Homo sapiens: one gene and its partners. The protein of the gene in region 1 interacts with the protein of each later gene in a biochemical or structural test. Each region holds a gene or a part of one and is shown in the gene's direction. Other genes may lie near its edges.

Region 1 (8,321 bases):
TTGTCTCTGTGGGCTTTGGCTGGGAATGTTTCTGAAGACGCCCTAATCCCTTGCCCTGCCTAGCCTCAAAGTCTCTATCACTCAGAGGAGTACTGGGAGGGCTCAGTGTGAGCCATCAGAACCTTCCAGGGTATCTTCCCTTGCTTGTTCTCTTTGCGCAGTCCACTTGGTTTGCTAAACTCCTGCTCTTCCATCAAGACCCAACTCAAGGCCAGGCACGGTGGCTCACGCCTGTAATCCCAGCACTCTGGGAGGCAGAGGTGGGCCGATCACTTGAGGTCAGGAGTTCGAGACCAGCCTGGGCAACATGGTGAAACACCATCTCTACTAAAAACACAAAAATTAGCCAGGTGTGGTGGCAGGCACCTGCAGTCCCAGCTACTCCGGAGGCTGAGGCAGGAGAATTGCTCGAACCTGGGAGGCAGGGGTTGCAGTGAGCCGACATGGCGCCACTGCACTCCAGTCTGGGCGACAGAGTGAGACCCTATCTCAAAAAAAAAAAAAAAAAAAAAAGACCCAACTCAAGTATCATCTCCAGGAAGCCTTCCCCTACTCCCAGCAATTAAATGCTCCTCAGAGAATTCCCATTTTTGGTTTACTCTTTGGTTTACCTCCAGACAGGAAGCCCCCACTGACACTGTTGTAGTCCCAGGGTGCAACACAAAGCAGAGATCACAAGCTGAGTTTAATAATTGCTTGTGGAATACATGTCCCAAGCCACCTCCTGCAGGAAGCCCTTCCAGATGCCCATTCTAGCCAGTCTGGCTCTTTGCTTCCATACCTTCACAACACTTGTGCCTCCCCCAGGGCCTCTTTCTCATCTTGCTTTCTGGGGCAGCTGTGTGCACATTTGTCTGTGTGCAGCAACTCTCTAAGGCAGGGATTTTTACTCCTATTTTTGATGAGGGGAGCTGTGGCTCAGAGAGGTTGAATAACCTAAGGCCACACAGTGAGTGGCAGAGCCAGGAATGTGACTTGGGTCCATTTGAATCCAAAGTCCCTGTACTTTCCACTGCCCTACCTAGATGTCCCTGTACCTCCTATAAAATCAGCATGGAGCCTGGTGCCTGGTAGTCCCTACAAATATTCACAAATTGGAGCTTAGCTCAGCTCTCAGGCAAGGCCCAGGTCAAAAGGGCAGATACAGCTTTGGGACCTTAGTTGCCACCACATGCCATACCTTCTTCCCAGCAGAAGGACTCCCTCCAAGACAGGGTAGGGGTGGAGGATGTGAACAGGGGCAGAAATGGGCATGTTTTGGGGTCAGACTTGGAGGAATAGCAGAGATTGGAGTGTCAGAAGGTGAGCATGCCTGGGGGTGTTGGGGAGATGCAATTCATCAGGGACAGCTTAGTGTCAGGGGATTAGACTGGGGCCCATGAAGGAGAGGCAGAGGCTGATGGGCCTAGGGGTGGTGTGGGTAGGTGAGCTTCCCCAGACAGTGACTCTGCCCTGCCCTCTCTCCAGCTAGGTCCTCTTCCCCATTCCTTCCCCCTTTCCTGACTGGATCCTCTTGGGAGAGTTACCCTCCTTGGCTTCCTCTGCTCCAATCTTTTTATCAGTTGGCCATCATTACTTATCATTACCTCAAGTCAAACCTCCAGATCCACATGGGGCTAGGACATTGGCACTGGACCAAAGAGGCCCTTTCCTTTGCTTTCTCTTTGTCTTTTTAATGCTTTGTTGCAAAGACCTAGGCGGGGAGAGAGAGAGAGAGAGAGAGACAGAGATTGACCCACAGTCAGGGTCAGGGAATTGAGGGGAACCAACCCAATTCTCTCTCCTTCAATTCACCAGGTTTGTATCCTGCCCTTCCTGCAGATCAGTGTCCTGCTAGTCACCTGGGGGTCAGGGGATGGAGTGAAGGACAAGACCTCCTTCCATTGCAGTGAAGCCACTTGGAGAAATGTGTGGAAAACAGCAAGACCCAGTGACTCTCTCCTCACCTTCTTTCCAATCTCAGGAGAGATTTTGTCCCTTCATCCACCGGCTTCTAGATTAACCACCCACACCCACACAGGCGAGAGTTTCCCTGAATATTGGAGGTGACAGGACATCAGGACAAAGTACAACTATTGTGCCTTGGCCCAATCACTACTTTCTTTGTCTGGGGCCGCCGCTGGCTCCTGGCTGCCTTTCGCACTTTTCTCCACCCCCACCCCTTTCTCCCCTTCCCCCTCACCTGGAACACCTTCCCCTTCCTCCTTGGCTCCTTCTGAACTGCCTTCAGAGCCACAGACTGTGGGGAGTGGCCACTGCGCTCCCAAGGTGAGGCCCTCCAAGCGGGGCCGAGTTTGCCCCTCAACTGGGAGCCAGCATGACCTCTGTGTGGGCTGCTCTCTGCTTCACTGCCCCTTCCCCCAATCTGCTAGGTGACCCTGGGCCCCTTTGTGCCCTCTCTGGGCCTTCGGAGGATTCTTTGGGGAGACAGTCTGCTCTGACGCCCCTTCCCCTGCAGCAAGCAGCCTGGGGAGGGAGGTGAGGATAAGTGAAGTCAAGTTGTTCAGGGGGCTAAGCCCATGGAAGGGAAGATGCCACAGAGATACATGTGGTCTTGTGATTGTTGTTTTGTGCTTTTTCCCCTTTTTTGAAAGCTCAGGTGACTAGGTGACTTGAGCTTTTAATTTGGTGACAATGTGGGCACTGGCTGAGTCCTTAAGAGTACATTGTTGTAAATGCCGGTGACAACACACTGGGGCATGGGATCCAGAGTTAACCCCTCCAGGTCACAGCCAGGTTATATCTCCACAATGAAGGGGGGAGGTGGGCCATACTTTCTCGCCCTAATGAAGGTAGCTCAAAAACCCCTAGGCCAGGTTGTAATCCTAGCCTTATATAAAAGGAATTCTGTGCCCTCACTCCCCTGGATCCCTGGGCAAAGCCCCAGAGGGAAACACAAACAGGTTGTTGTAACACACCTTGCTGGGTACCACCATGGAGGACAGTTGGCTTATGGGGGTGGGGGGTGCCTGGGGCCACGGAGTGACTGGTGATGGCTATCCCTCCTTGGAACCCCTCCAGCCTCCTCTTAGCTTCAGATTTGTTTATTTGTTTTTTACTAAGACCTGCTCTTTCAGGTCTGTTGGCTCTTTTAGGGGCTGAAGAAGGCCGAGTTGAGAAGGGATGCAAGGGAGGGGGCCAGAATGAGCCCTTAGGGCTCAGAGCCTCCATCCTGCCCCAAGATGTCTACAGCTTGTGCTCCTGGGGTGCTAGAGGCGCACAAGGAGGAAAGTTAGTGGCTTCCCTTCCATATCCCGTTCATCAGCCTAGAGCATGGAGCCCAGGTGAGGAGGCCTGCCTGGGAGGGGGCCCTGAGCCAGGAAATAAACATTTACTAACTGTACAAAGACCTTGTCCCTGCTGCTGGGGAGCCTGCCAAGTGGTGGAGACAGGACTAGTGCACGAATGATGGAAAGGGAGGGTTGGGGTGGGTGGGAGCCAGCCCTTTTCCTCATAAGGGCCTTAGGACACCATACCGATGGAACTGGGGGTACTGGGGAGGTAACCTAGCACCTCCACCAAACCACAGCAACATGTGCTGAGGATGGGGCTGACTAGGTAAGCTCCCTGGAGCGTTTTGGTTAAATTGAGGGAAATTGCTGCATTCCCATTCTCAGTCCATGCCTCCACAGAGGCTATGCCAGCTGTAGGCCAGACCCTGGCAAGATCTGGGTGGATAATCAGACTGACTGGTCCCACTCTTCCCACAGGCCTCAGAGCCCCAACTTTGTTCCCTGGGGCAGCCTGGAAATAGCCAGGTCAGAAACCAGCTAGGAATTTTTCCAAGCTGCTTCCTATATGCAAGAATGGGATGGGGCCTTTGGGAGCACTTAGGGAAGATGTGGAGAGTTGGAGGAAAAGGGGGCTTGGAGGTAAGGGAGGGGACTGGGGGAAGGATAGGGGAGAAGCTGTGAGCCTGGAGAAGTAGCCAAGGGATCCTGAGGGAATGGGGGAGCTGAGACGAAACCCCCATTTCTATTCAGAAGATGAGCTATGAGTCTGGGCTTGGGCTGATAGAAGCCTTGGCCCCTGGCCTGGTGGGAGCTCTGGGCAGCTGGCCTACAGACGTTCCTTAGTGCTGGCGGGTAGGTTTGAATCATCACGCAGGCCCTGGCCTCCACCCGCCCCCACCAGCCCCCTGGCCTCAGTTCCCTGGCAACATCTGGGGTTGGGGGGGCAGCAGGAACAAGGGCCTCTGTCTGCCCAGCTGCCTCCCCCTTTGGGTTTTGCCAGACTCCACAGTGCATACGTGGGCTCCAACAGGTCCTCTTCCCTCCCAGTCACTGACTAACCCCGGAACCACACAGCTTCCCGTTCTCAGCTCCACAAACTTGGTGCCAAATTCTTCTCCCCTGGGAAGCATCCCTGGACACTTCCCAAAGGACCCCAGTCACTCCAGCCTGTTGGCTGCCGCTCACTTTGATGTCTGCAGGCCAGATGAGGGCTCCAGATGGCACATTGTCAGAGGGACACACTGTGGCCCCTGTGCCCAGCCCTGGGCTCTCTGTACATGAAGCAACTCCAGTCCCAAATATGTAGCTGTTTGGGAGGTCAGAAATAGGGGGTCCAGGAGCAAACTCCCCCCACCCCCTTTCCAAAGCCCATTCCCTCTTTAGCCAGAGCCGGGGTGTGCAGACGGCAGTCACTAGGGGGCGCTCGGCCACCACAGGGAAGCTGGGTGAATGGAGCGAGCAGCGTCTTCGAGAGTGAGGACGTGTGTGTCTGTGTGGGTGAGTGAGTGTGTGCGTGTGGGGTTGAGGGCGTTGGAGCGGGGAGAAGGCCAGGGGTCACTCCAGGATTCCAATAGATCTGTGTGTCCCTCTCCCCACCCGTCCCTGTCCGGCTCTCCGCCTTCCCCTGCCCCCTTCAATATTCCTAGCAAAGAGGGAACGGCTCTCAGGCCCTGTCCGCACGTAACCTCACTTTCCTGCTCCCTCCTCGCCAATGCCCCGCGGGCGCGTGTCTCTGGACAGAGTTTCCGGGGGCGGATGGGTAATTTTCAGGCTGTGAACCTTGGTGGGGGTCGAGCTTCCCCTTCATTGCGGCGGGCTGCGGGCCAGGCTTCACTGAGCGTCCGCAGAGCCCGGGCCCGAGCCGCGTGTGGAAGGGCTGAGGCTCGCCTGTCCCCGCCCCCCGGGGCGGGCCGGGGGCGGGGTCCCGGCGGGGCGGAGCCATGCGCCCCCCCCTTTTTTTTTTAAAAGTCGGCTGGTAGCGGGGAGGATCGCGGAGGCTTGGGGCAGCCGGGTAGCTCGGAGGTCGTGGCGCTGGGGGCTAGCACCAGCGCTCTGTCGGGAGGCGCAGCGGTTAGGTGGACCGGTCAGCGGACTCACCGGCCAGGGCGCTCGGTGCTGGAATTTGATATTCATTGATCCGGGTTTTATCCCTCTTCTTTTTTCTTAAACATTTTTTTTTAAAACTGTATTGTTTCTCGTTTTAATTTATTTTTGCTTGCCATTCCCCACTTGAATCGGGCCGACGGCTTGGGGAGATTGCTCTACTTCCCCAAATCACTGTGGATTTTGGAAACCAGCAGAAAGAGGAAAGAGGTAGCAAGAGCTCCAGAGAGAAGTCGAGGAAGAGAGAGACGGGGTCAGAGAGAGCGCGCGGGCGTGCGAGCAGCGAAAGCGACAGGGGCAAAGTGAGTGACCTGCTTTTGGGGGTGACCGCCGGAGCGCGGCGTGAGCCCTCCCCCTTGGGATCCCGCAGCTGACCAGTCGCGCTGACGGACAGACAGACAGACACCGCCCCCAGCCCCAGCTACCACCTCCTCCCCGGCCGGCGGCGGACAGTGGACGCGGCGGCGAGCCGCGGGCAGGGGCCGGAGCCCGCGCCCGGAGGCGGGGTGGAGGGGGTCGGGGCTCGCGGCGTCGCACTGAAACTTTTCGTCCAACTTCTGGGCTGTTCTCGCTTCGGAGGAGCCGTGGTCCGCGCGGGGGAAGCCGAGCCGAGCGGAGCCGCGAGAAGTGCTAGCTCGGGCCGGGAGGAGCCGCAGCCGGAGGAGGGGGAGGAGGAAGAAGAGAAGGAAGAGGAGAGGGGGCCGCAGTGGCGACTCGGCGCTCGGAAGCCGGGCTCATGGACGGGTGAGGCGGCGGTGTGCGCAGACAGTGCTCCAGCCGCGCGCGCTCCCCAGGCCCTGGCCCGGGCCTCGGGCCGGGGAGGAAGAGTAGCTCGCCGAGGCGCCGAGGAGAGCGGGCCGCCCCACAGCCCGAGCCGGAGAGGGAGCGCGAGCCGCGCCGGCCCCGGTCGGGCCTCCGAAACCATGAACTTTCTGCTGTCTTGGGTGCATTGGAGCCTTGCCTTGCTGCTCTACCTCCACCATGCCAAGGTAAGCGGTCGTGCCCTGCTGGCGCCGCGGGCCGCTGCGAGCGCCTCTCCCGGCTGGGGACGTGCGTGCGAGCGCGCGCGTGGGGGCTCCGTGCCCCACGCGGGTCCATGGGCACCAGGCGTGCGGCGTCCCCCTCTGTCGTCTTAGGTGCAGGGGGAGGGGGCGCGCGCGCTAGGTGGGAGGGTACCCGGAGAGAGGCTCACCGCCCACGCGGGCCCTGCCCACCCACCGGAGTCACCGCACGTACGATCTGGGCCGACCAGCCGAGGGCGGGAGCCGGAGGAGGAGGCCGAGGGGGCTGGGCTTGCGTTGCCGCTGCCGGCTGAAGTTTGCTCCCGGCCGCTGGTCCCGGACGAACTGGAAGTCTGAGCAGCGGGGGCGGGAGCCAGAGACCAGTGGGCAGGGGGTGCTCGGACCTTGGACCGCGGGAGGGCAGAGAGCGTGGAGGGGGCAGGGCGCAGGAGGGAGAGGGGGCTTGCTGTCACTGCCACTCGGTCTCTTCAGCCCTCGCCGCGAGTTTGGGAAAAGTTTTGGGGTGGATTGCTGCGGGGACCCCCCCTCCCTGCTGGGCCACCTGCGCCGCGCCAACCCCGCCCGTCCCCGCTCGCGTCCCGCTCGGTGCCCGCCCTCCCCCGCCCGGCCGGGTGCGCGCGGCGCGGAGCCGATTACATCAGCCCGGGCCTGGCCGGCCGCGTGTTCCCGGAGCCTCGGCTGCCCGAATGGGGAGCCCAGAGTGGCGAGCGGCACCCCTCCCCCCGCCAGCCCTCCGCGGGAAGGTGACCTCTCGAGGTAGCCCCAGCCCGGGGATCCAGAGAACCATCCCTACCCCTTCCTACTGTCTCCAGACCCTACCTCTGCCCAGTGCTAGGAGGAATTTCCTGACGCCCCTTCTCTTCACCCATTTCCTTTTTAGCCTGGAGAGAAGCCCCTGTCACCCCGCTTATTTTCATTTCTCTCTGCGGAGAAGATCCATCTAACCCCTTTCTGGCCCCAGAGTCCAGGGAAAGGATGATCACTGTCAGAAGTCGTGGCGCGGGAGCCCACTGGGCGCTTTGTCACATTCCACCGAAAGTCCCGACTTGGTGACAGTGTGCTTCCCTTCCCTCGCCAACAGTTCCGAGTGAGCTGTGCTTTAGCTCTCGTGGGGGTGGGTCAAGGGAGGATTTGAAGAGTCATTGCCCCACTTTACCCTTTTGGAGAAATGGCTTGAAATTTGCTGTGACACGGGCAGCATGGGAATAGTCCTTCCTGAACCCTGGAAAGGAGCTCCTGCCAGCCTTGCACACACTTTGTCCTGGTGAAAGGCAGCCCTGGAGCAGGTGTTTTTTTGGAACTCCAAACCTGCCCACCCAACTTGCTTCTGAAAGGGACTCTAAAGGGTCCCTTTCCGCTCCTCTCTGACGCCTTCCCTCAGCCAGAATTCCCTTGGAGAGGAGGCAAGAGGAAAGCCATGGACAGGGGTCGCTGCTAACACCGCAAGTTCCTCAGACCCTGGCACAAAGGCCTTGGCTACAGGCCTCCAAGTAGGGAGGAGGGGGAGGAGTGGCTGCCTGGCCACAGTGTGACCTTCAGAGGCCCCCAGAGAAGGACACCTGGCCCCTGCCTGCCTAGAACCGCCCCTCCTGTGCTCCCTGGCCTTGGAAGGGGTATGAAATTTCCGTCCCCTTTCCTCCTTGGGGCCCAGGAGGAGTGGAGGGTCCCGGGAGAATATTGTCAGGGGGAAGGCAGGGGGTGTCATGGGAATGGGTGAGGGGGCTGAGGTGCAGAATCCAGGGGGTCCCTGCAGGAGCCGCAGTGGTAAGCTGTCCAGCTGGAAGCCTGGTAACTGTTGTTTTCTCTTGAGAGGGGCTTCCTGTGACCTTGGCTGTCTCTGGGAGCAGGGCTGGGGTACCTGAGTGGGGTGCATTTGGGGTGTGTGGGAAGGAGAGGGAAAGAAAGATGGACAGTGGGACTCTCCCCTAGCAGGGTCTGGTGTTCCGTAGGCTAGAGTGCCCCT
Region 2 (7,409 bases), on another chromosome or scaffold:
ATGAATTAGCATTCATCTTATCCTTTTTTTTTTTTTTTTTTTTTTTGAAATGGAGTCTCACACTGTTGCCCGGGCTGGAATGCAGTGGCACTAGCTCCACTCACTGCAACCTCCGCCTCCTGGCTTCACACGATTCTCTTGCCTCAGCCTCCCAAGTACCTGGGATTACAGGCATACACCACCACACCCAGCTAATTTTTTGTATTTTTAGTAGAGACGGGATTTCACCACATTGGCCGGGCTGGTCTCGAACTCCTGACCTTGTGATCCACCCACCTCAGCTTCCCAAAGTGCTGGGATTATAGGTGTGAGGCACCGCAACTAGCCTCATCTTATACTTTTTCTGAACTTCTTATTTTGGGCAATTTCAAACATATTCACAAATGGAAAAGAAATAGTAGAATGAATTCTCTATGTGCACGACCCTGCTTCAACAATTATCAGATCATAGGAAACTTAATTTATGTCTGTCATCCCTGACTCTGAATTATTTTCAAACAAGTCCAAGCATATATTATGTCCCCTCGTTTATTTTACAACTAAAGAAACAATTCACAATGCTTGCTCTCTCCCGACCCTTGAAGGGGAGGTGGGGAAAGACGGTGTGGAATTCTTATTCACTGGGGAAAGATTGAAAGTGTAGTGTATTTCCTTTGAGCAGGTAGAAACCTCACCATGCCCTAGATCACAACCCTCCCACCACCTCCTGCCTTACTTTCTTCCTAAGATTAATTGGTGGGGGAGGAATGGGTTGGGGGACAGAAAAAGCTGGCAGCTTCTCCAGTGAACTCTATTATCTGCCCCCTTCCTGCTACCCACCTAGTCATTTCACTGCCCAACTTGAAGTACAGTATAAAGGACCAGCAGACTGGACGTGGTGGCTCACACCTGTAATCCCAGCACTTTGGGAGGCCAGAACAGGAGAATCAGTTGAGTTAGAGAGTTAGAGACCAGCCTGGGCAACATAGCAAGATACTGACACTACAAAATAAATTTTTTTTTTAAAATCAGCCAGGCATAAGGGCGCACACTTGTAGTCCCAGCTACTCAGAGTCTGTTTTAGGATCCTTTGAGCCTAGGAGTTCAAGGCTGCAGTGACCTATGATCACACCATTGCACTCCAGCCTGGGTGACAGAATTAGAACCTGTCTCTAAAGAGAAAAAAATAAAAATTAAAAATAAAGAAATAACCAGCCATGTCTGGCCCAACACACATGCACACACACACACATACACACACACACATATACACACTCACAACAAACGCCCAATCCATGAACTTCTGCACCCACTCAGAAATACTTACAGAGCACTGCTTGCTCAAGTAGTGGCTTCCCAAAAGGTACCCCAGGGGGGCATTTGCTGATGCTAGGAAATCTCATTAAATTCTCCCCATCTTGGCTCTTTGGGTGAGTGAGTCAGTGGACTGAAGGCTGGGCCAAGGGTACTTCATGCCTTTCCCATTTTGTGGTTCACTTTTCTCCCAGTGAATATAACCATTAAATAGGTTGAATAGGCCTCCTTCCACCACAGCCACCTCCTTGCCTAATGAGAATGACAAGGAAATTGGATAAAATTGGACTCCTTCAAATCTGAGACACTTTCAATTGAATCTTAAGACAGGCAGTTTTAGAAAACTTAAAATACTTTGACTGTAAATGGCACTGTACATATAAATGGCATCAAATTAACTAAATGCAATTAGCCAAAATGAAGGCAGTAATGGTGGAAAAATTGATGCAAAGTGAAGCAAAATGGCTCAGTAGGATCTGACATTCAAAGGAGGTTAAAAGCTATGTTAGCCAGAGACAAAAGCTAAAAGGCTTGCAGAAGTAAAGTGCTAATTGAGAAAATGAAGACAGAGTTCCTGACCCAGAACTGTGATAAAACCCTTGAAAGGGAAAATATCAGTGCTTTATGTGTTAGAGTATCAGAGAAGGAGAGCTTGTCGTAGATTAACAGCTGAGAAGTGCGATTCCTTCAGAAGGGTTTGACTCTTTTGTTCTCTCAGCCACCCAGATTTACTTGGCAGTTGTGCCAGGTCAGCTCCGACTAGAAAGAGCCCCTGCAGTTCTAGAAACACAATCATTTGTGTAGAGAGATGGGTGAGCCCGACATCTGAAAGGCAGGAACTACTTGTTAACGGGAAAAAGATCCAGATGAAAAGAGCCCTTCACGAAGCTCCCGCGCATAGACTGACATTAGAGAGTAGATGGTGCTTTTTTTATAATATTATTTGGTGAAACTTTGCAAGCCAGACATTGGGTTGTTTAAAAAGAAAATGAACACTAGCTAGGTAAAATATCCTGCTGCTTATCGAAAGGCATCCCATTTGCTTGGTTTTCTGCATTTGACCTCAAAGAATGGAACTAGGTACCTCCTTTCAGAGGATTCCTGAAGTCTGGCATCTCTCCCTGGTTCAGTGAACAAGTGGTATTTGAGAAGCTCTGTTACAGGGCAGATGCTGACTTGGGCACTGGAAATACACGTGTAAAGGAAGAGGTCCCTACGCTTGAGGAACTCGCAGTCTGATCATGGTTGGGAAGCAACCACAGTGCAGTTCAGTGAGGGCTTCCAATGGCAGAGGCCAGTGACAATGGACCATGTAAAAGATGACGGAAGAGGGGTCAAGGAAAGCAGCCCTGTCTCAGACACCGGCTGAGCTAGGCTTATTTTACTGGCTCATGTTTGGTGTGCTTTGCACAGGTTTTTGTATGGGAAGCAGTTAGATAGAGGCAGAGTGTGCATGACTTTGGGAACTACCTCCTTGCCTAATGAGATTGACAAGGAAATTGATGAAATTGGATTCCTTCCATTTTCACTGAGTAGAGCAGAAGTTTGTGGATCGGGTGTTTATTGTGAGTGAGTGTGTGTGTGTGTGTGTTTGGCAGGACACTGCTGGTTCTTTATACTATACCTTAAGTTGGTGATGCAGTGACCAGGAGGAAAACAGGATGGGGGTGGATAAAAGGTCCATTGGAGGGGCTGCCAGCGCTCCCTCTTTGTGAAGAAGTGTGGATAGGCTGCAGGCAGTGAGCAGCCTCTGAAGAATTCTAAGCAGAGGAGCAACACGAGCAGTTTTAATTTATATATATATATATATATATATATATTTAAGACAGGGTCTCTGTTGCCTAGGTTGGAGTGCAGTGGTGTGATCTTGGCTCACTGCATCCTCCACCTCCCAGGTTCAAGCGATTCTCCTGTCTCAGCCTCCTAAGTAGCTGTAGTCCCAGCTACTTAGGACTACAGCTATGTAGGAGCTACTACAGATGCCCGCCACCACGCCCGGCTAATTTTTGTATTTTTGGTAGAGACATGGTTTTGTCATGTTGGCCAGGCTGGTCTCGGACTCCTGACCTCAGGTGATTCAGCCACCTCGGCTTCCCAAAGTGCTGGGATTACAGGCGTGGACCACCGCGCCCGGCCACACGAGCATATTTAAAGACCACAGTGTGAGAAGGCAGGGACCATAAGAACTTCCTCAGGCAGAGGATTCTTGAAATCTGGCATCTCTCCTACTGCACTGAACAGGCATCATTTGAGAAGCCCTGTTACATGGCAGGTGCTGTGTTGGGCACTGGAAATACAGGTATGAAGGAGGGGGTCTCTGTGCTTGAGGAACTTACTGTCTAGTTGTGGATGGGAAGTGATTATGGTGCAGTTGAGTGAGGATGTCCTATGGGAGAGCATCCCTCTACCTACGTCCACTTCTCTCCTTCTTTCTAACACCCATTCTCTGACTAGCCTCAATAAACTTTGAGCAATGAGCTCAATAAGTGGGATTAAGACATGGCAGCAGCATTGCCAATTTCAGTCTTTTTTCCGTAAGATTGAGGGGACAGAGGCACGATGGGTGTATTTTTTTCCCATCGTGGTGGATTCATCACAGTGAAATGGCACCATCCCACAGACAAGTAATCACATCTTGATAAATTAGTGGGCAAAACAAATCCTAAGTGTGAATGGATCAGCTCAGTCACAGAGGACACCTGCAAGGTCAGAGAGCGAGAGGGACATTCATCCTGCAGTATCAAACCTACTGCTAGAGCTGCCATTTGTGAACACCCTTCCTTTATGATTCCACCCGTTGGTTTGAAGAAGGGCGGGCTCTCACATAAGCAACCAGGTAAGGAAAGGAAGCTGCCCATGAACACGTCCACATCCACCTGGACACTGTTGACACAGGCAAGCGGAAAGGAGTATGTGCCCACGTGTGCACAGTGAGAAAGCACCTTGCAAACACACAAGTCTCTTGGGCAACAAACACAACCTCTTGCTGCCCACTGAGGCCCGAGCAGCAGATTCACACTTAATCAGGTGAGGTGTTAGAGAAGATGATTTCTATTTGCAGAGCCAACAGTGAAACATGAGCTGTGTTGACCAGGTGGTGGCAGGAGGAAATGTTCCCAGTGGGGGTCATTAAAAGCGAAGCCAAGAGAAAGTCCTCGCAGTTCAGCAAGTGTCTAAGTTGCCAAAATGGCACGTTCTAATGAACCTCAACAAGGCAACCTTGCCTCTCCTTGAGCCAGAAGCCCACATCAAATAGAAGCAGGGCTCACAGTAGAGATTCAAGCTCTCAGGTGTGTTTAAGGAATTCGAAAACCATGAAAACAAACTACGGGAAAAATAATCTGAACTTGAAAAGTATAAAAAAAAAGATTACTACATTATTAGGAAAAACTACAGGTTTATGATTATCAAGCAGTCATAGTGACAGAAATTTCATTAATCAGAAGTCCTGCTGCTCAAATGATAAATAAAAATACATCTCAATGATTTCATTTAATGCATGTGTTCACATGGGTGCCGCAGTGTGATCTTAAAGTTGCATAAAAACAGGGTTTCTTGGGCCCAGCGTGGTGGATCATGCCTGTAATCCCAGCATTTTGGGAGGCCAAGGTGGGAGGATTGCTTGAGGCCAGGAGTTTGAGACTAGCCTGGGCAACATAGCAAGATTCTATCTCTACTTAAAAAAAAAAATTAATCTTTTTAAGAACTAGCTGAGCATGGTGGCATGGGCCCGTAGTCATAGCTACTCAGAATGCTGAGGCAGGATGATCACTTGAACCAAGGAGTTTGAGGCTGCAATGAGCTATGATCACACCACTGCATCCCAACCTGGGCAACAGGAGTGTCTAACATAATAAATAAATAAATAAATAAGGTTTCTCTAAGAGCCAGGAGTTTTCAGTCCAGTCTATGCACAGACTTTGCTTTCAGTTTGCTTGTGATGGTGCAAATGCCAGCTTGAGGCATAGCATGTGTCCATATGAAAATGCATTCCATTATAAGTAGTATCCTAATTAGTGCCACTCAGCCTTCCCCTAATCAAATGTCCATTTTGCAAGAGCTGAGAGCAGGGCCTTAGGTGCCCATGAGGTCCCCAAGTGTGCACACTTATCCCTTTCCACTACGTATTTGGGTTCTTGGTGCTCAGCGCAGGAAGCTTTTGATTAGTGAGACTTGAAAGAAGAGAGATAAAAGTGTGGTAATCCTGGCCACTCTCCCTAACACAGTTCTTTGTCACAGCAGGAGATGGCAACTTCATCTATTCCCAAGCTGACGAAAATCAGAAGGGCAAAGTGGCTCGCCTGGTGAGCCCTGTGGTTTATTCCCAGAACTCTGCCCACTGCATGACCTTCTGGTATCACATGTCTGGGTCCCACGTCGGCACACTCAGGGTCAAACTGCGCTACCAGAAGCCAGAGGAGTACGATCAGCTGGTCTGGATGGCCATTGGACACCAAGGTGACCACTGGAAGGAAGGGCGTGTCTTGCTCCACAAGTCTCTGAAACTTTATCAGGTATGACCTCTTCCCAAGGCTGGGGAGGGCAGTGGCTGCAGGAATGCTGAGATGATATGTTGGAGGCTGTGCAAATGAGACATGGGAATTATTCCGAAATTATTTCCAGTGTTTCCCAACCCTGAGATATTGCTGCAATGATAACCACCTTAATAGCAGATTTCACAGTCTCCTAGATTGCAGGAATAGAACCAATTTGCTGAGAAGGAACACAAAGGGCTTCCGTGTCATCTATTTCTGGGCTTTCACAATGTATCATTCCTTTTGTTTGCTGCTTTCTCCCGTTTTAAAGTTTGTATTATAAGAAGAGAGTGTAAGGAGAAGGTGCATACCATCACCAGGCAGCTAATGTGGATTGATGAGTGAAGTCTGTGTTACGCTGAATCTGATGAATTTAATTTATGTGCCGTAGCTGGAGCTGAACAAGCATTTGTAAACACTGCCATGTGAGATGAGCATTTCAATACTGTGAAAATGATCTTATTTTGTTAGGTGATTTTCGAGGGCGAAATCGGAAAAGGAAACCTTGGTGGGATTGCTGTGGATGACATTAGTATTAATAACCACATTTCACAAGAAGATTGTGCAAGTAAGTATGAGCTGCTGTAGAAACCAATGGAGTGCTTGCCCAGGGCAAGACTCTTGCCAATATGATGGTCTTTGTTTTGCTCATTTCTACCTAGAATTTCGGTGTGGCCTCTCGGCACATCATAGGAAATGCGTATTCTGGTGCAACAGGGCATACAATCAGCCCAATTTACCTGTGTCTGCCCCGTCACCTACCCTAGGTCCTTCATAATGGCTGCTTGATACCTATAAAACTCCACAAATAATGCAGAATCCAAAGATGATAGCTAAGAAGACCCAGCTTACAAGCTATAGATGCCATACCGAAACATTTTGATGAACAGTGGAAAGTCAGACATCTGGATAATTCCAAATATCTGGGTGTATAAACAAAACAGCAGGCCTCTGAAAACTTTGATCAGAATAAGTTTAATTAAGAATGCATTGTTAATGAACCATAGAAGCCATAATTCTTTGCTTTATCACAAGTAGATGTTTCTGACTTTTAAAATATCTGAAATGACTTAAAGGACTTCAATGAGATTCAGAGACTTGGCCTAGTATTTCAGAGTTGGTCTTTATGGGTCTTGTACTAGGTGGATGTAAGACATAGAAAACCAATTCATATTCCCTAGTTCTTGATATATAATTACAAATAGCATTACTAATGGCAGTGTAATAGCACAGTAATTAGTCTTCAGCTCCATTTGCTACATTGAAACTTTTGTTATACATCATTATATAATAGGATGTTAATTATAACAAAATGGGATAAGCCTATTGGGCCAATTTAAGACAAAGGAGGTCTGTTGGCTGTAATGGGGGTTTTGGTCACTTCAGCAACTTACAAAGCTTTTATTATATAATATATTGAATATATATAATCCCTAAAGCGGCAATAATTTGATAGGATCCATCGAAGAAATTGGGCAAAAAGAAAGGAGCAATGAATAAAGGCTTGCTTCTTCATACTATTAAAGGGAATCTGCTTAGTGCTGCACTATTTAGCAAATCTTCACAAGAATGATAAGGCTT
Region 3 (7,960 bases), about 33 Mb from region 1:
GGAAAAGCTGGAGCTGATGGCAAGATTGCCGCGGCTATAAATCCATCACTTCCCAGGTCAGCTCTGTGCGGCGCTGGGACTGCAGCTGGCGGAGTGAATTCCTGGGCCAGCGCGCATGCGTCGGCAGGTAGCAACCCAGCTCTTTATGACCAGGTGAGATGTTGGTGAGCAGGTAAAAAAGGAGGATTTGCCTAAGCGATTCCAGGGAGCTGGCCCGACCGAGCCCTCCAGCCCATGCCCGGCGGGGACCAGTCGCCAGGAGCGCAGAGCCGCGATGTCCATACTTGCCAAAATGGGGGACTGGCAGGTACGGGGGGTTTGCCTTGGCTGGGGTTGAGGTGGGCAGGGGTGGAGTAGGGGAGGGGGCCGGAGCGGGGAGGAGGAGAGGAAGCGCCGTGGCCCAGGGCAGGGGAGTCGTAGGTGAGGCGCGCCTGGCAGCGCCCAGGAGAGCTCCCAGGAGACAGCGAAGACAGGAAAAACGGGCGCAGGCAGCGACTGCGGTGCTGGGCGCAAAGCGCGCAGCCCGCGGGGCCCGGCGCCGGGGAAGTCCGGCGCACGCTCCACAGGTGGCCTGGTGGGTCACTTGTGGTTTGTGCTGTGGCCGTTTCCCCCACCCCCCTCCCACCTCAAGTAGAAACTTGGGAGGATGACTAATTCGGAAGGGGGGAGGGAGAAGGCCTGGGGTTGTGGTGCGCGGCGGTGAAGGTTTTCAGCCTGCTGCGCCTGCGGCCTCGCCCTAGACCCCAGGGTTGAGTGTTGGACAGGTTCTGGTGCACCTGTCTCTCTTGGTACCCCCAGATTTCGGGAGATCTAGGATGTGTGAAGAATGGAAAGGGGTCCAGATGGCTGGGTCGCGGAGGCAGCGTGTTTCTGTAGGAGATACAAAGTTTGCCCGAAGTTTAGCTAGCAACTCACTCCACTTCCTGAAATGGGTTTTTGCCGCCTGGGCTACGGATGAGGGAGTGTGAGAATGGTGGGTGAGGAGGCAGGGGGGTGGTGAATTTGCCAAAACCAACGCCTGTGGAACTTGGCCCTGCTAGGCCGCGGACACCACAAGGCATCCAAGGCTTGGCTCCTGTCCTTCCTGAGCCCCGGATTCCGACCCTGGCCAAGGAAGCATTTGTCCAGCTCTCTCCTTCCAACTTCCAGACACTTTCCCTTCGGGAAACAGAGCGGCTCTGGCCAGGATGGTGGCGGTAAAAGGCTCTGCCTGTCGCCGATTTCATCATCAGAACCGCGAGGCCCTGTTTTCGCCCCAACCAAGAGGCCTGGTGAGGGTGAGATTCTGTGTGCCCAAAAGCCCAGGGGACAATTCGAATCTAATGCCCTGAACTTCCCCCCAAAAATCTGAGGCCTTGCTACTCCTGGTCGAGTTCTTTCTCTTGTTTCAGATTTAGGCCATTAAAAGTAAAGTTCTGAGAAGTGCAGTCTTCACTAAGCTACCTGGAGTTGGAGAAAGAAAGGCCTTTTGCGTTCTGTACTTTTTTCCCTTGGATTTATTACTTTTATCAAGAGTGAGCTCTTTTATATTCTTCTCCCTAGTTAAGCCTCACTAAATGGTATTTCATCCGCAAGTTTAGACAAACCTCGTGGTTTAAGGATGCAAATCCCATACCAGAGACAAATCCCGGGAATCCACACCTTTCCCTTCCTGACCCTGTGGGCTAAAGGCCCTTCCTAACTCTCTTATTTGGAGGCTGAAGACTGGGGGAGTCCTTTCGGAGCAGTCTTTGGGTTTTCTCCTCAAATTCCAGTGAATTTCGCTGCAGAATTCCTAGGCCGTGAGAAGGTGCCTGTTGAGTAGGTTTGGCCTGGGACTGGGCCTTCTGTGGGTTCGACTAAGGTTTGAAAGCCGCGAGACTGCCGCAGGAGGAGGAAGGAGGGAGCCGCGGGCCTGGCTCTTGCGGGCTCACAGTTAGGCAAGTGGCTGGAGGCCTGGATCTCGGGTGGGGCGAGCGGATTTGGGGCCCGGAGGGGCCGAATCTGATGGGCTGGGCCTGTTGGGCTCCCGGCTCCCACTGGGCATTGACAATCGGAGAAAAGAGAGTCGTTCTGGCCCCTCACTGTCTCTTTCTCTTTGTGACTCTGTCTCTCACACAAATACTCCCTCTTCCCCGCGACGCCCTTTTTATGCCCCCCACGTCAGGCCTGGATCTCCGACCTCCAACCCCAGGCCTGGCGCTGCTGTCCCGGGGTTCTGGCCCCGCCGGAGCATTGACATGCAATGAAGCGACTTAGCGTGGTAATGACGCTGGCATAAATGCAGCTCGGCTGGCTCCAGAGGCGACCCTGGCGCTCGCCCGGGCCTTTCATCAGCGCCTACACCGGGGGCGGCAGTCCAGAGCCGGCAGGTCCCAATCTGCACCTCAATGGCGCCCTCGGCGGGAATACAACAACAGTTTAGCAGCCCCAGCGGGTGCGGAGCCGGAGATCTGTTGGGCGCGGGGCAGCGGGGAGGTGGAAACGGGGGTTGAAATGGGGTGGCAGAGGATGGAGGGCGGCCTTTCCAAGCCCGCAGAGGGCAAGAAAGCGAAACTTGGAGTTCCCTTAAGCACACCGCGGCGACGTCTACGGAGTGTAAAAACCCATGCTCTCAGGCCTAGGGTTTGGCCTGCTCAGGCTATGGCCGCTGCTGGGAGGGTGTCGGTGCTCCTGGCAGCCCAGATCCTGACTTCAAACCACTGCACTGGCGACAGGCTGGGACAGCCCTGCAGGGTCTAGCCCTGGAAAGTCGACCATTTTCTGGACGGAGGGCGGCGCCAAGCCTCCAGCCCGGTTCAGCCGAGGAATTGTGCTCAGTTCAGGTAGGGCAAGGGAGGCCCAGAGCATGGGGAGGGCTTCCTGGGTCTGTAAGGCCCCTTGCCAGCTCCGGCTTCTCCCTAGCTTTTTGGAGCCTTCTGCCTACTCTGCTAGGTTTGGGGAGTTTGCTGAGGTGTTTGGAGGGAGAATTCCCCTTCTGCAGCCTTGGGTGGAATGGGGAGTTCTCCCAGCTCCTGCCTTCCTTCCACCTGTGAGGGAATGCTCCAATCTGCCACAGTTCCCATCCCCTTTTAGGAACGCCCGGTGGAAATATGGGAGGCCTGGAGATTTTCGAGAAACAAGCCCAGATGAATCAAAGGTCCTTACTAGAGCAACTCTGAGGCGGGACCTAGTGTAGTTAAGGAGTTTGTACATATAGCAGAGAGAAAAGACAGAGGTAACTTTCTTTTGGAGGACAAACGAGGAAGCTCAGCCAGGAAAATTAATTACTCTGTATTTCCTAGTGTCACATTAGGTCCTTTTCTTTTTTTTTTTTCTTACTTAAAAAAAAATCCCAAAACCGAAAGGGATAAAAGCCCCAGAGGACCCAGCAGGCCCCGGTGAGGAGTCCAAAAGCCCGGACTGACCAGTCTGGACGAGTAGGTGGCTCCCAGGCCTCCAGGTTCCGCGGCAGCCGGGCTCTGCCTCGCGAGCACGCCCGCGTTAGTAGCATCACCAAATCATGAAGGAACTCTCCCTGCTTTAATTAAAAAGGGGAATCTTGGGAAAACTAGAGCAGATTAACACAGCTAAAAGTCGGTTCCCGGTGATTTATTTTGATGCACGCACGAGACGGTATCTAGACTTGCAGGCACACACACGTCTGTTTTTAGGCTCAACTTCAGAAGCGGGTGTGCAGTTCCATAGGAGTTCTGTATTCGTGTCCACGTTGCACCCAGGAAACCTTAGCCTGAACACCAATTTGAACTGTCAGTTGGCCCTAGCTTCACACAAACAGGAGAAAAATTGTTTAACCCCTGGAGCTGTCAAGTAACCTCTTCAGGGTACAACTTTTATTTTACACGCTGCAATTAAGGGATTGCAAACCCCAGCAGAGCCACCGGAGCCGCTTGGCAGAATCTCCAACCTGGGGGAAAGCTCAAAGCCAATAAAACTCCCAAGGCGCTGCGGCCCGAGGGGGTGGCTGCCTCGAGCGGAGGCGATCCCTTGTTGGGAAAAAATCCTGGAGTGACTTCGCCGGTCTTGGTTTGGTGGTTATGTTTAATTGCGAAAGGGATAATGATTTCTAATAAAATTGCACGGGGCCAAAAGGGCAGCTCGGATCGTGGTAGCAGGGTTAAGGGAGAAGTGCTAGAAGCTGGGCCCCAGGCGTGGCGCTTGGACCTTGAGCAGTGCCGGGCTTTGCAGAAGGCATCTCTGGAGAAAAGGAAGCGGAGAAAGAAAGGAAGGGGAATGTGGCGGAATTGGGGTAAGAGAGGGGGTGTTGGGGCAGGGCCTCGCGGCGGAGCTCGAGGAAGGTTTTATCAGTTCGCAGGCTGGAGTGCGCTCTAGAAGCAAGTTCGCGGCGTAGAGAGGCCTTTATACCTGTGTCGGAGCGGCCGGCGGCAGATTGTGGTACTGGCGAGCAATTGGACTATTGTTGATATGCTAATGAGGCGATTAGGCTGTTGGTAAAGAGCTGGAAAAGGGAAAAGTTTCTACCATTAGAGGGAGATCTCCGAGCGCACACGGGAGCTCTTTCCCTTCTCTCCTCCTCCTCGCCCTTCTCCTCGCCCTCCTCCTCCTCCTCGCCCTCCTCTTCCTCCTCCTCCTCCTTGCCCTCCTCCTCTCCCTCCTCCTTCTCCTCCTCCACCTCCTCTCCCTCCTCCTCCTCCTCCTGCGCTCACCGCCGGCAGCCAGCACTTTGCGCTCACCCAGAGAGTAGCTCCACTTGGGTGCGAGACCGAGAGGGGCATATCCGTTCACGCCGATCCATGAAAATGCTTTGGAAATTGACGGATAATATCAAGTACGAGGACTGCGAGGTAAGCGCGACGCCGGCTCGATCATCCGTGCGGTCACAGGCTCCGAGCTTGACCCTCCCTCTCCTCCTCCTCTCCTTGCAACCAGCTGCGAAACGCGGGTGGGACAAACTTTCCCCAGCGCAGCGCCCGTCCCTCGGATTCGCCCGAAGAACGCGGGGGAGAAGCTGCAGAGAGAGGACGTGGATGCTCCCTTCTTTGGTTTCCCTACTTTGAAGCTCGTGTCCCACTTTACTCCCCTTTCTGACCAATTTTGGCTGTGCCTAAGAATGGGGGAAAAGAAGAACATGGGCTTTTGAAGCAATTGCTGGCAACTGGGCACTTGCCTGTGCACTCCTCGTGTTATCTTCATCGAGATTGAGGGCCCAAGTCACCAGGAACAGAAAGGAAAGAGAAAACTCTTTTCTCTCTTGAACTTCCTCTCCGATCTTTAATATTCCTTCTTCTTTCTATTCATTCATTCATTCATTCATTCATTCTTTCTTCCCCCCACCCCCACTTCTAAAGCGGTTCCCTTCTCGGCTTTAGAGACGGCCCCCCCACACTTCGCTGTGAGCTGGGCTGCATCTTCCTGTAAGCGGGTTCAACTTAAGACCACTGATCCCAGCTGCGGGGCTCGCTCCAGATCCTCTGTGCTTCACGAAGTTCTAAGTAGCTTCTCCCTCTGAGCTACAGGATCGACGCACCCCACGGGGGTGTGTGGGGGTGGGGTGGGGAGATGTGCTGCGCCGAGCCTGCTGGCCGCTGGGTGCGGGAGCACCAGCTTCTGCACCAGCCCAGAACGACCGTGGGAATCCTTGCGCGGCTGCAGACCACCTCTGGTGCCGCAAGCCCGCTGGGCCGACAGAGCGCGCCGCTTTGGAACCCATTTTAAAACGCAGAGTCCCCTGAGCTCGCCTTCTTGAGGCAGCAAGGGAGACCCTAGCGCGACCTGTCCACCCGCAGGAGGCGCTGGGAACGGTTACAACCAACACTGTAATGAGCAATGAGTCCGAGAGAGGGGTTGGGGTGTGTAGGGCTGGAGATTACCTAAATAAATAGGTGGCAGTCCCAACTTTTGCTGTTTTTTTTTTTTTTCTTTTTTGGCATTTGCAGCTGAGAATGTTAGGCAGGAGGTGTGTGTGCAGGCGCAGGGGCGGAGATCTTGACTTCACTCGAAACCAGAAATTGGGTTTATGTGAACGATGTGTCACCCGCTCCCTCCTCCCTTTTCTTTCTGAAGATTATTTTAAATCGTTCTCCTTTCAGGCCCCCCACCCCGGTAGATGGGGACGGGGTGACATCCCACGGGTACTGGCTCTTCCCTGGGGGGGTCCTGTCGCGCTAGAGGAGGGGCGCAGGGACCCCACGTCAGACCAGTCGCTTTGTTTTCGAGGCTGGGGGCGAGCTTTGCGGGCAGGTAGGAATGAAGCCGAACCCCTCAGTCTCATAGGACAATTCATACTGTACTGGTCTGGGCTTTGGCCGGAGGCTTGGGCATTTCACTTTCGCAGAGGCCGAAACCCAGCTCCAGGTGTGGGCGCCCTCGGCGGGCGGGGTCCGAACCTCCGTGCGGCTCTAGGTGCCGACTGGATGGGGTGGGTGGCTAGGTGGGGGATGAACTTGCACCCCTAGAGGGATCCTGTGGGGGCAAGTGTGAATGCGTGTGTAAGCGAGGCAAAAAAAGATGAGAGAGAGAGGAGAATAAAGTCAAAGCTGTTTCCACAACTTTGGCCGTGGTGGGCAAGCGCCGGAGCGGGGATTTCGGGTTTCGGAGCTGGCTTGGGGCAGTCTGATTGTGCCGGGGCTCTGTAGGGACACGCAGGAGGCGAGGTGCCGCTTGTTCTGACAACCTGGCGGGTAGACTGGCAAAGGCAGCACGCCGGGAGAGCTAGTCGTGTCATCTGGGGGGGCGTCAGGCGGGAGTGGCCCAGCCAGTCGGACGGGTTTTTGCCGGGAGCCGCGAGCCGGTGCCAGCGGCGCCCGGGCTGGGCCGCCTAGCGTCTGTGCGCGCCCCGGCCCGCATCCCGGCTCCCGATCCGGAATCCCCGGCCCCAGAGAGCCGAGGGCAGAGCGACGGTGGCCGGGGAGCGCACGGTGCCCCTGTCCGAGGAAAGCTCAAGAGGAGGCCGAGGAGAGGACCAGTGCAGCGAGCGGGCCGGTCCCGGGCAGGGCGCCGGGTCATGGAGGAGCCGCGCAGCAGCGGGCAGCCGAGTCCCGAGTCCCAGACTCGGCTGCGAAGCGGCGGAGCCCGCGGCCAGACAGGGCCGGGAAGCGCCTGCCGCGCCGAGAGCCCCACGAGCGCCCGGACGCGGTCCCAAGCAGCTCCTACCCGCTACGCACGACCCCCGCTGCATCCCGAGGTCTGCCCCAGCCTTTTAGGTCTGATTGTCCTCGCTCGCTTCCTCTCCCCTTCCCCCTCCCCCGCGGCCTCCCCCTCCGTGCGCTCCGGCTGGGCCCCCTCCCCCTCCCTCCCTCCCTTCCTCCCTCCCTCTTTCCCTCCCTTCCTCCTCTCGGGCTCTCCCTCCTTCCCTCCCTCCCCTCTCCCCACCCGGGGCTCCTCTCCCTCGCCCACACTTTCTTTCTCACACACGCACGCAGACACATTCTCCCTCTCTGCGCTCTCTCCTTCGGTCTCCCTCTCTGCCTCTTTCTCTTTCACTTTTGCATGCCCTGCAACCTTTTAAAATGTTGCCCCTTCCCTGTGATTCGCCAGACGCCGCGCCGCGGCCCCCCGCGCGCTCGCCCGCTCCCTCTCTCGCTCGCTTTTTGTCTCTCGCGCTCCCTCTCCCCACTCCGATTTGCTACACTGAGACTCCCGTCAATGGACTGCATTGAGAGCCGGCTCCGGCGCGAGTTGCCTCTCCGCTTCACGCTCGATTTCCAGGCATTCTTCCCTTATTAAGTATTCGTGTAATATTAATAGTCATGAATATCTGCTATTAGGAGGCTCCAGGAACGCTGCCCAGCGCGGTTATTAGAAGCTCAAGCGAAGCCGCCGCTAAGAAAAGAGGGGGAGACACGGATTAAGGAACACGCACGCACCCACACACTCACACATACTTTTTCCTTTTTCCTTTTTTGGGGTTTTTCATTTTTAAAGAACTTTGAATCATAACCAGTCGCGGCAGGATAGAGACCGTGGGTTCGACCAGCTGAAGGCGCCGCGCGAATCGGTGGTTCAAGTTCGGATGGATCCG
Region 4 (7,409 bases), on another chromosome or scaffold:
TTGATAAACACGATGGACTTGGTTGTGTGTTTTCTGGTTTTTCTGAGATCTAGTTTGAAAATTCTGACAACTAGCAAAGTATATGGAAGCTTCTTCAGGAAATAGTAAACATATTTCTTTTTACAGCCTAATAGTCCCAGTGAATATTGTTTTTATGTGGATAGTGATATGGTCAATGAATTCAAGTTGGAATTGGTAGAAAAACTTTTTGCTGAAGACACAGAAGCAAAGAACCCATTTTCTACTCAGGTATATGAACTTATTTGTTTTATATTAAATTTCATTAATTTTTAGTCTGAAGTGACTTTGAGTTTCACTTGTTTTTTATTTATAAGGTGTGGCCATTGTAAAAACTCATGTATTTGCTGTTTTAAAGGACACAGATTTAGACTTGGAGATGTTAGCTCCCTATATCCCAATGGATGATGACTTCCAGTTACGTTCCTTCGATCAGTTGTCACCATTAGAAAGCAGTTCCGCAAGCCCTGAAAGCGCAAGTCCTCAAAGCACAGTTACAGTATTCCAGCAGACTCAAATACAAGAACCTACTGCTAATGCCACCACTACCACTGCCACCACTGATGAATTAAAAACAGTGACAAAAGACCGTATGGAAGACATTAAAATATTGATTGCATCTCCATCTCCTACCCACATACATAAAGAAACTACTAGTGCCACATCATCACCATATAGAGATACTCAAAGTCGGACAGCCTCACCAAACAGAGCAGGAAAAGGAGTCATAGAACAGACAGAAAAATCTCATCCAAGAAGCCCTAACGTGTTATCTGTCGCTTTGAGTCAAAGGTATTTATATGTAACATTCAAGTTATAGTTCTTTTATTATTTTTGAGATAAATGTATGTGATAGTACATGATTTTTAAACTTATAGCAAACTTTCTGATATATATGCCCTAACGCAAATTCTTGAGAACTCAAAAAACTTTCTAAATTAACCTCATATATTTTTTCTTTTTCTTTCTTTTTTTTTTTTTTGAGACAGAGTCTCGCTTTGTCGCCCAGGCTGGAGTGCAATGGCATGGCACCATCTCAGCTCACGGCAACCTCTGCCTCCTGGGTGCAAGAGATTCTCCTGCCTCAGCCTCCCGAGTAGCTGGGATTACAGGCATGCACCACCACGCCCGGCTGATTTTTTTGGTATTTTTCATAGAGACAGGGTTTCTCCACGTTGGTCAGGCTGGTCTCAAACTCCCGACTTCAGGTGATCCGCCTGCCTCAGCCTCCGAAAGAGCTGGGATTACAGGTGTGAGCCACCATGCCCGCTCCTATTTTTTCTAAAATAATTATAAATTCTAAAATTACCTATCTAAATGGAGGAGGGTCTTCTGACACCTTTAAAATAAAATCCAGCTCAGTACTGTAAATGTGTTTACAGAACTTGTTTAAAGTTCTTACAGTTGTTTAAATCAGACTAGTTAACTACCCTCACTACTTAGATGCTTCCATTTCTTAGAGCTCTTTTTTAAGCTTATCTGAAGAAAAGCCCTTCCAATTTAAGGGTTATTTCCAATTGCACATTCCAAATTGAGCCTTCCATCTTCAGCATTCAATATAGATATTTACAGGCCCCTCTTTTAAAATTTTATTATAGTTAACTTGTATTAAAGTTGCTTTTATTTTTCATTACGTATTTGTAGAACATTAGCTATATATATATTGCAGGCTACATAGGTTTTCAAACTGTACAACAGGAATCTAAGCATGAATTGTTACTTCTATGGAGCTAGTTCAAACAAACATATGGACATGACCCAATTTTTAAGTTATACTTTCTGTATATAATTTGTAAGGGGATTTCACATATTTTAAGTTTGAGGCTATAGCTAGAAGAAATTAAGTTTTATCTAATAAGTGTGTGGAAAAGGGAAATGATTCCTTCTCTACTATGTCTAGACTAAGCCAGATATCAATAGCAATAGGAAAGAACCACTGTCGTAGCCAGAACACATAGCTTTTTTCCCTGCCTAACATTCCCACCTTGACCTAGAGTGCTGGGAGAGGTCTTTTCCCTAAGCTTGGAAAAGACATTGGGGCTTTAGATGAACTCAGAAGTACTTTACATTACTTTATTTACTGTGTCACTTACTCACTTTTGACTCTGAGCTCCACGAGGGCAATCACAGTGTCTTGGGCATTTTAGTGATACTAATACTTAGCTCATGACCTAATGTGTAGTACTTCCTCAATAAATGGTTGTTGAGGCAGGGCGCAGTGGCTCATCACTGTAATCTCAGCACTTTGGGAGGCTGAAGCGGGTGGATCACCTGAGGCCAAGAGTTTCAGACCAGCCTGGCCAACATGGTGAAACCCGGTCTACTAAAAATGCAAAAATTAGCTGGGCGTGGTGGCACGTGCCTGTAATCCCAGCTACTTTGGGAGGTTGAGGCAGGAGAATTGCTTGAACCCTGGAGGTGGAGGCTGCAGTGAGCCGAGATCGTGCCATTGCACTCCAGCCTGGGCGAGAAGAGTGAAACTCGGTTTCAAAAAAAAAAAAAAAAAAAAAAGTTGTTGGACTGACAGATGCATGAATACAGTAGTAAAAATGACAATCACTTATAAGTTACAGTTTACTATCAGCTACAGAGGATGGGATATCCAGTTTTCTGAACAACTGTTCTCTTGTACTTGTCAAAGCCAAAGTGTAACAACACATCAAGTCACTTTAGCAATTTATTTTTGAGACGGAGTTTTGCTCTTGTTGCCCAGGCTGGAGTGCAATGGCGTGATCTCGGATCTTGGCTCACCGCAACTGCCGCCTCGCTGGTTCAAGCAAATCTCGTGCCTCAGCCTCCCGAGTAGCTGGGATTACAGGCATGCACCACCACACCCAGCTAATTTTGTATTTTTAGTAGAGACAGTGTTTCTCCAGGTTGATCAGGCTGGTCTCAAACTCCCGACCTCAGGTGATCCACCTGCCTCAGCCTCCCAAAGTGCTGGGATGACAGTTGTGAGCCACTGTGCCCAGCTAGCAACTGTTTTTAAACATTAGTTCCAATGTAGTGTACACTGAAAACTTTTATGAAAGGAATTTCAAAAATTAAGATAAACCATTAAAAACGTAATTACTAAGTACTACTACTACTACAATGATATTTACATAATAGACTGAGTTACATTTCATAAAGACAATATATCTGTATAAGAATTTTTAAACTTCCCTGTCTATATAATAGAAGTTTTAGAGAAATTTTTTAAAAACCAAAGAAAACTGCAAAATAAGATCACTTACCTATTTGGCATTCTCAACTGTCTGGAACAGCAAGGAGCCATTATGATTATGCATTTGGTTTGTGGGGTGTCTTGAAAAGTCAAAATAATGTAACAAAGCTGATGTACTTTACTCATTAGAACAATTCTTCACAATTTAATATTAATTTTAGATATACATAGTTCATGTTTGATAACCAGATCAATACTGAGTGAAAAATAGCATAGTGGGAAGAGCAGGGGAGGGGAGGTAGGGATCTGGAGACCTAGAGTGTACTTCCATATTGCAACTAGTGAGCAGTAGGACTTTGAGAAAGTTACCCAATAGGCCTCAGGGTTCTAATTTATAAAATGGGTATGATATGCCTGCCTTATCTGTCTTGGGAACTTAAGTAAGGTTAAAATGAACTAATGAACTTGAAATGTTTTATAAACTGAAAATGCTATACGAATGTGAGATTGATCTTGTATTTCAATAGTCCCAACAATATCACTGCATTGTTATATTAGGTGGAATAAAAGGACAATATTTAACTGTTTTGACTCTACAATAGTGTCAATTTAGTTGTGTTCAGCTCTATTTTATAAAATAGGGATACGCATACTGTAGAAAATTTCCTGTTAAATTAAGCTTTGACGGCCAGGTGCTCACGCCTGTAATCCCAGCACTTTGGGAGGCCAAGGTGGGCAGATCACTTGCGCTCAGGAGTTTGAGACCAGCCTGAGCAACATAGTGAAATCCTGTCTCTACAAAAATATGTATATATAAATTAGTCATAATCCCAGCTACTTGAGAGGCTGAGGTGGGAGGATCACTTGATTCCAGAGGCAGGGCTTGGTTGCAGTAAGCAGAGATCACGTCTCTGCACTCCAGCCTGGCTGACAGAGTAAGACCGTGTTTCACCAAAAAAAAAAAAAAAAAATTAAGCTTTTACTTTTAAGATGATAAACTTTAGTGATCAGGAAAGTTATCTTATGTATATTATATTCCTTAATATTGGAGAACTAAAGAATTATGTATTTTCTTTAAAAGCGCTCACTGGATATTTTTTTTAAAAACGCTATATTTTCATTTAGAATTTTTTTCTTTTCAGAACTACAGTTCCTGAGGAAGAACTAAATCCAAAGATACTAGCTTTGCAGAATGCTCAGAGAAAGCGAAAAATGGAACATGATGGTTCACTTTTTCAAGCAGTAGGAATTGTAAGTATGAGTAGTAGGTTTTGCTTTTCTAGCTAATGTGCTATTTCGTGTGTGTGTGTGTGTGTGTGTGTGTGTGTGTGTTTCCACGTTTCTTCCAAATAGTAAAGTTATATTTTCAGAAGTTATACATTGGGTTTTTTTACTCTGTATGCACTGGTTTTTAAAAATACAAATGTTTAATACATACATTCTTGGTATAAAAATTCCAAACAATTCCAGTGTATTTTGAGTTAAAAAGTGAAGTTCTCCCCTTACTCCACCCTGAATATCACCACCAATCTCATTCTCTTCCCTTTAAGTTACTTTGCCTTATTAAAAGAACTGCTATTGGCCAGGCACAGTGCCTCACGCCTGTAATCCCAGCACTTTGGGAGGCCAAGATGAGGATCACTTGAGGTCAGGAGTTCGAGACCAGCCTGGCCAACTTGGTGAAACCCTGTCTCTACTAAAAATACAAAAATTAGCCAGGCGTGTTGGTGCACAACTATAATCCCAGCCACTCTGGAGGCTGAGGCAGGAGAATAGCTTGAACCCGGGAGGTGGAGGTTGCGATGAGCTGAGATCAGGCCACTGCACTCCAGCCTGGGTAAGAGAGTGAGAGTCCATCTCATATTTAAAAAAGAACTGCTATGTTTTGGGGTAAGTCAATGGTGGTATAATACATTCTGATATTTTCAAACTAAATTAACTGGAAAGTATTTATAGACAGAATGGTCATAATGGATGACAAATAACTTAAGAAAGAATTCAAAATAATTTAGGGTAGTATTTAAGAAACTGCCTATAATGTTATTAAATTTACACCAATTTCAAGGTTTTTGGTTGTTTAAAAAAAAAATTCAACAAACTAAACTTGAAATAACTTTACTGTTTATAGGGAACATTATTACAGCAGCCAGACGATCATGCAGCTACTACATCACTTTCTTGGAAACGTGTAAAAGGATGCAAATCTAGTGAACAGAATGGAATGGAGCAAAAGACAATTATTTTAATACCCTCTGGTTAGTTTATTCTTTTTGACCTTGAACATCACAAAGACAAAATACATGAAACATTTTTATTTAGGAGCTTTAATCTAAGTGAGAATGACTTTGGTTCCTTAGCAAGATTAAAAAGTAAAGTTGTGGCTGGGCGCGGTGGCTCACACCTGTAATCCCAGCACTTTGGGAGGCCGAGGCAGCCAGATCATCTGAGGTCAGGAGTTGGAGACCAGCCTGGCCACCATGGTGAAACCCCGTCTCTACTAAAAATACAAAAATTAGCTGGGCGTGGTGGCGGGCGCCTGTAATCCCAGCTACTTGGGAGGCTGAGGCATGAGAATTGCTTGAACCCGGAAGGCAGAGGTTGCAGTGAGCCAAGATGGCACCACTGCACTCCAGCCTGGGCGACAAGGGTGAGACTCTGCCTCAAAAAAAAAAAAAAAAAAAAGTACAGTTGTATTTCATGTGATGGTCTTAATACAGAGATTAACATTTCAAGGTGGAGCTTTTCATTTTTAGTAATTTTCTTTGATTTCTCTATGTCCATGTGCTGTCAATATTGATAGAAGCTGAAATTTGTGAACTTTTATGACTTCTTTTTTTTTTTTTTTTTTTTTTGAGACAGGGTCTCGCTCTGTTGCCCAGGCCTGGAGTGCAGTGGCATGATCATAGCTCACTGCAGTCTCAAACTCCTGTGCTCAAGCTCAAGCAATCATCCTACCTCAGCCTCCTGAGTAGCTCGCACTACAGACATGCCTCACCACACCCGGTTGCTTTTTGTAGAGATGGGGTCTCACTATGTTGCCTAGGCTGGTTTCAAACTCCTGGCCTCAAGTGATCCTCCTGCCTCAGCCTGTGCTAGGATTACAGGCATCAGCTTTGATGCCCACCATATTTATGCCTTTTTCCAAATTGTTATTTCTTTGTGCCTTTATTGTATCCTGTAAACATTTCTGACACAGCAACAGTATCACTGGATTATACTTACTTTTTAACATAGTTGTGGTTTTGCCAGGTAAACTAAAAACCCTTCCAGAATTTTGCTTTATTTTCTATGATACCTAACACATTGTGGGTGTTTAATAAATATTCATTGACTAGATGAATGTATACTTAGGTATCTCTTTTGTTTTTCAGATTTAGCATGTAGACTGCTGGGGCAATCAATGGATGAAAGTGGATTACCACAGCTGACCAGTTATGATTGTGAAGTTAATGCTCCTATACAAGGCAGCAGAAACCTACTGCAGGGTGAAGAATTACTCAGAGCTTTGGATCAAGTTAACTGAGCTTTTTCTTAATTTCATTCCTTTTTTTGGACACTGGTGGCTCATTACCTAAAGCAGTCTATTTATATTTTCTACATCTAATTTTAGAAGCCTGGCTACAATACTGCACAAACTTGGTTAGTTCAATTTTGATCCCCTTTCTACTTAATTTACATTAATGCTCTTTTTTAGTATGTTCTTTAATGCTGGATCACAGACAGCTCATTTTCTCAGTTTTTTGGTATTTAAACCATTGCATTGCAGTAGCATCATTTTAAAAAATGCACCTTTTTATTTATTTATTTTTGGCTAGGGAGTTTATCCCTTTTTCGAATTATTTTTAAGAAGATGCCAATATAATTTTTGTAAGAAGGCAGTAACCTTTCATCATGATCATAGGCAGTTGAAAAATTTTTACACCTTTTTTTTCACATTTTACATAAATAATAATGCTTTGCCAGCAGTACGTGGTAGCCACAATTGCACAATATATTTTCTTAAAAAATACCAGCAGTTACTCATGGAATATATTCTGCGTTTATAAAACTAGTTTTTAAGAAGAAATTTTTTTTGGCCTATGAAATTGTTAAACCTGGAACATGACATTGTTAATCATATAATAATGATTCTTAAATGCTGTATGGTTTATTATTTAAATGGGTAAAGCCATTTACATAATATAGAAAGATATGCATATATCTAGAAGGTATGTGGCATTTATTT

The links.
Region 2: the proteins of VEGFA (region 1) and NRP1 form a complex in vitro, tested with the Homo sapiens proteins (8 studies listed by BioGRID, with this or other methods).
Region 3: the proteins of VEGFA (region 1) and TFAP2A form a complex in vitro, tested with the Homo sapiens proteins (one study listed by BioGRID).
Region 4: the proteins of VEGFA (region 1) and HIF1A form a complex in vitro, tested with the Homo sapiens proteins (one study listed by BioGRID).

Annotation. Positions count from the first base shown.
Region 1 is NC_000006.12:43,764,988-43,773,308, forward strand, and holds the start of VEGFA (vascular endothelial growth factor A, long form), read left to right. Parts: upstream 1-5,223; 5' UTR 5,224-5,719; coding exon 5,720-6,325; intron 6,326-6,980; exon of another isoform or gene 6,981-7,114; intron 7,115-8,321.
Region 2 is NC_000010.11:33,184,615-33,192,023, reverse strand, and holds part of NRP1 (neuropilin-1 isoform a precursor), read left to right. Parts: intron 1-5,532; coding exon of another isoform or gene 5,533-5,535; coding exon 5,536-5,807; intron 5,808-6,299; coding exon 6,300-6,396; intron 6,397-7,409. UniProt on the Homo sapiens protein: Cell-surface receptor involved in the development of the cardiovascular system, in angiogenesis, in the formation of certain neuronal circuits and in organogenesis outside the nervous system. Mediates the chemorepulsant activity of semaphorins.
Region 3 is NC_000006.12:10,411,765-10,419,724, reverse strand, and holds the start of TFAP2A (transcription factor AP-2-alpha), read left to right. Parts: upstream 1-4,650; 5' UTR 4,651-4,733; coding exon 4,734-4,784; exon of another isoform or gene 4,785-5,044; intron 5,045-7,333; exon of another isoform or gene 7,334-7,960.
Region 4 is NC_000014.9:61,740,379-61,747,787, forward strand, and holds part of HIF1A (hypoxia-inducible factor 1-alpha), read left to right. Parts: intron 1-126; coding exon 127-249; intron 250-376; coding exon 377-810; intron 811-4,326; coding exon 4,327-4,435; intron 4,436-5,312; coding exon 5,313-5,439; intron 5,440-6,555; coding exon 6,556-6,707; 3' UTR 6,708-7,409.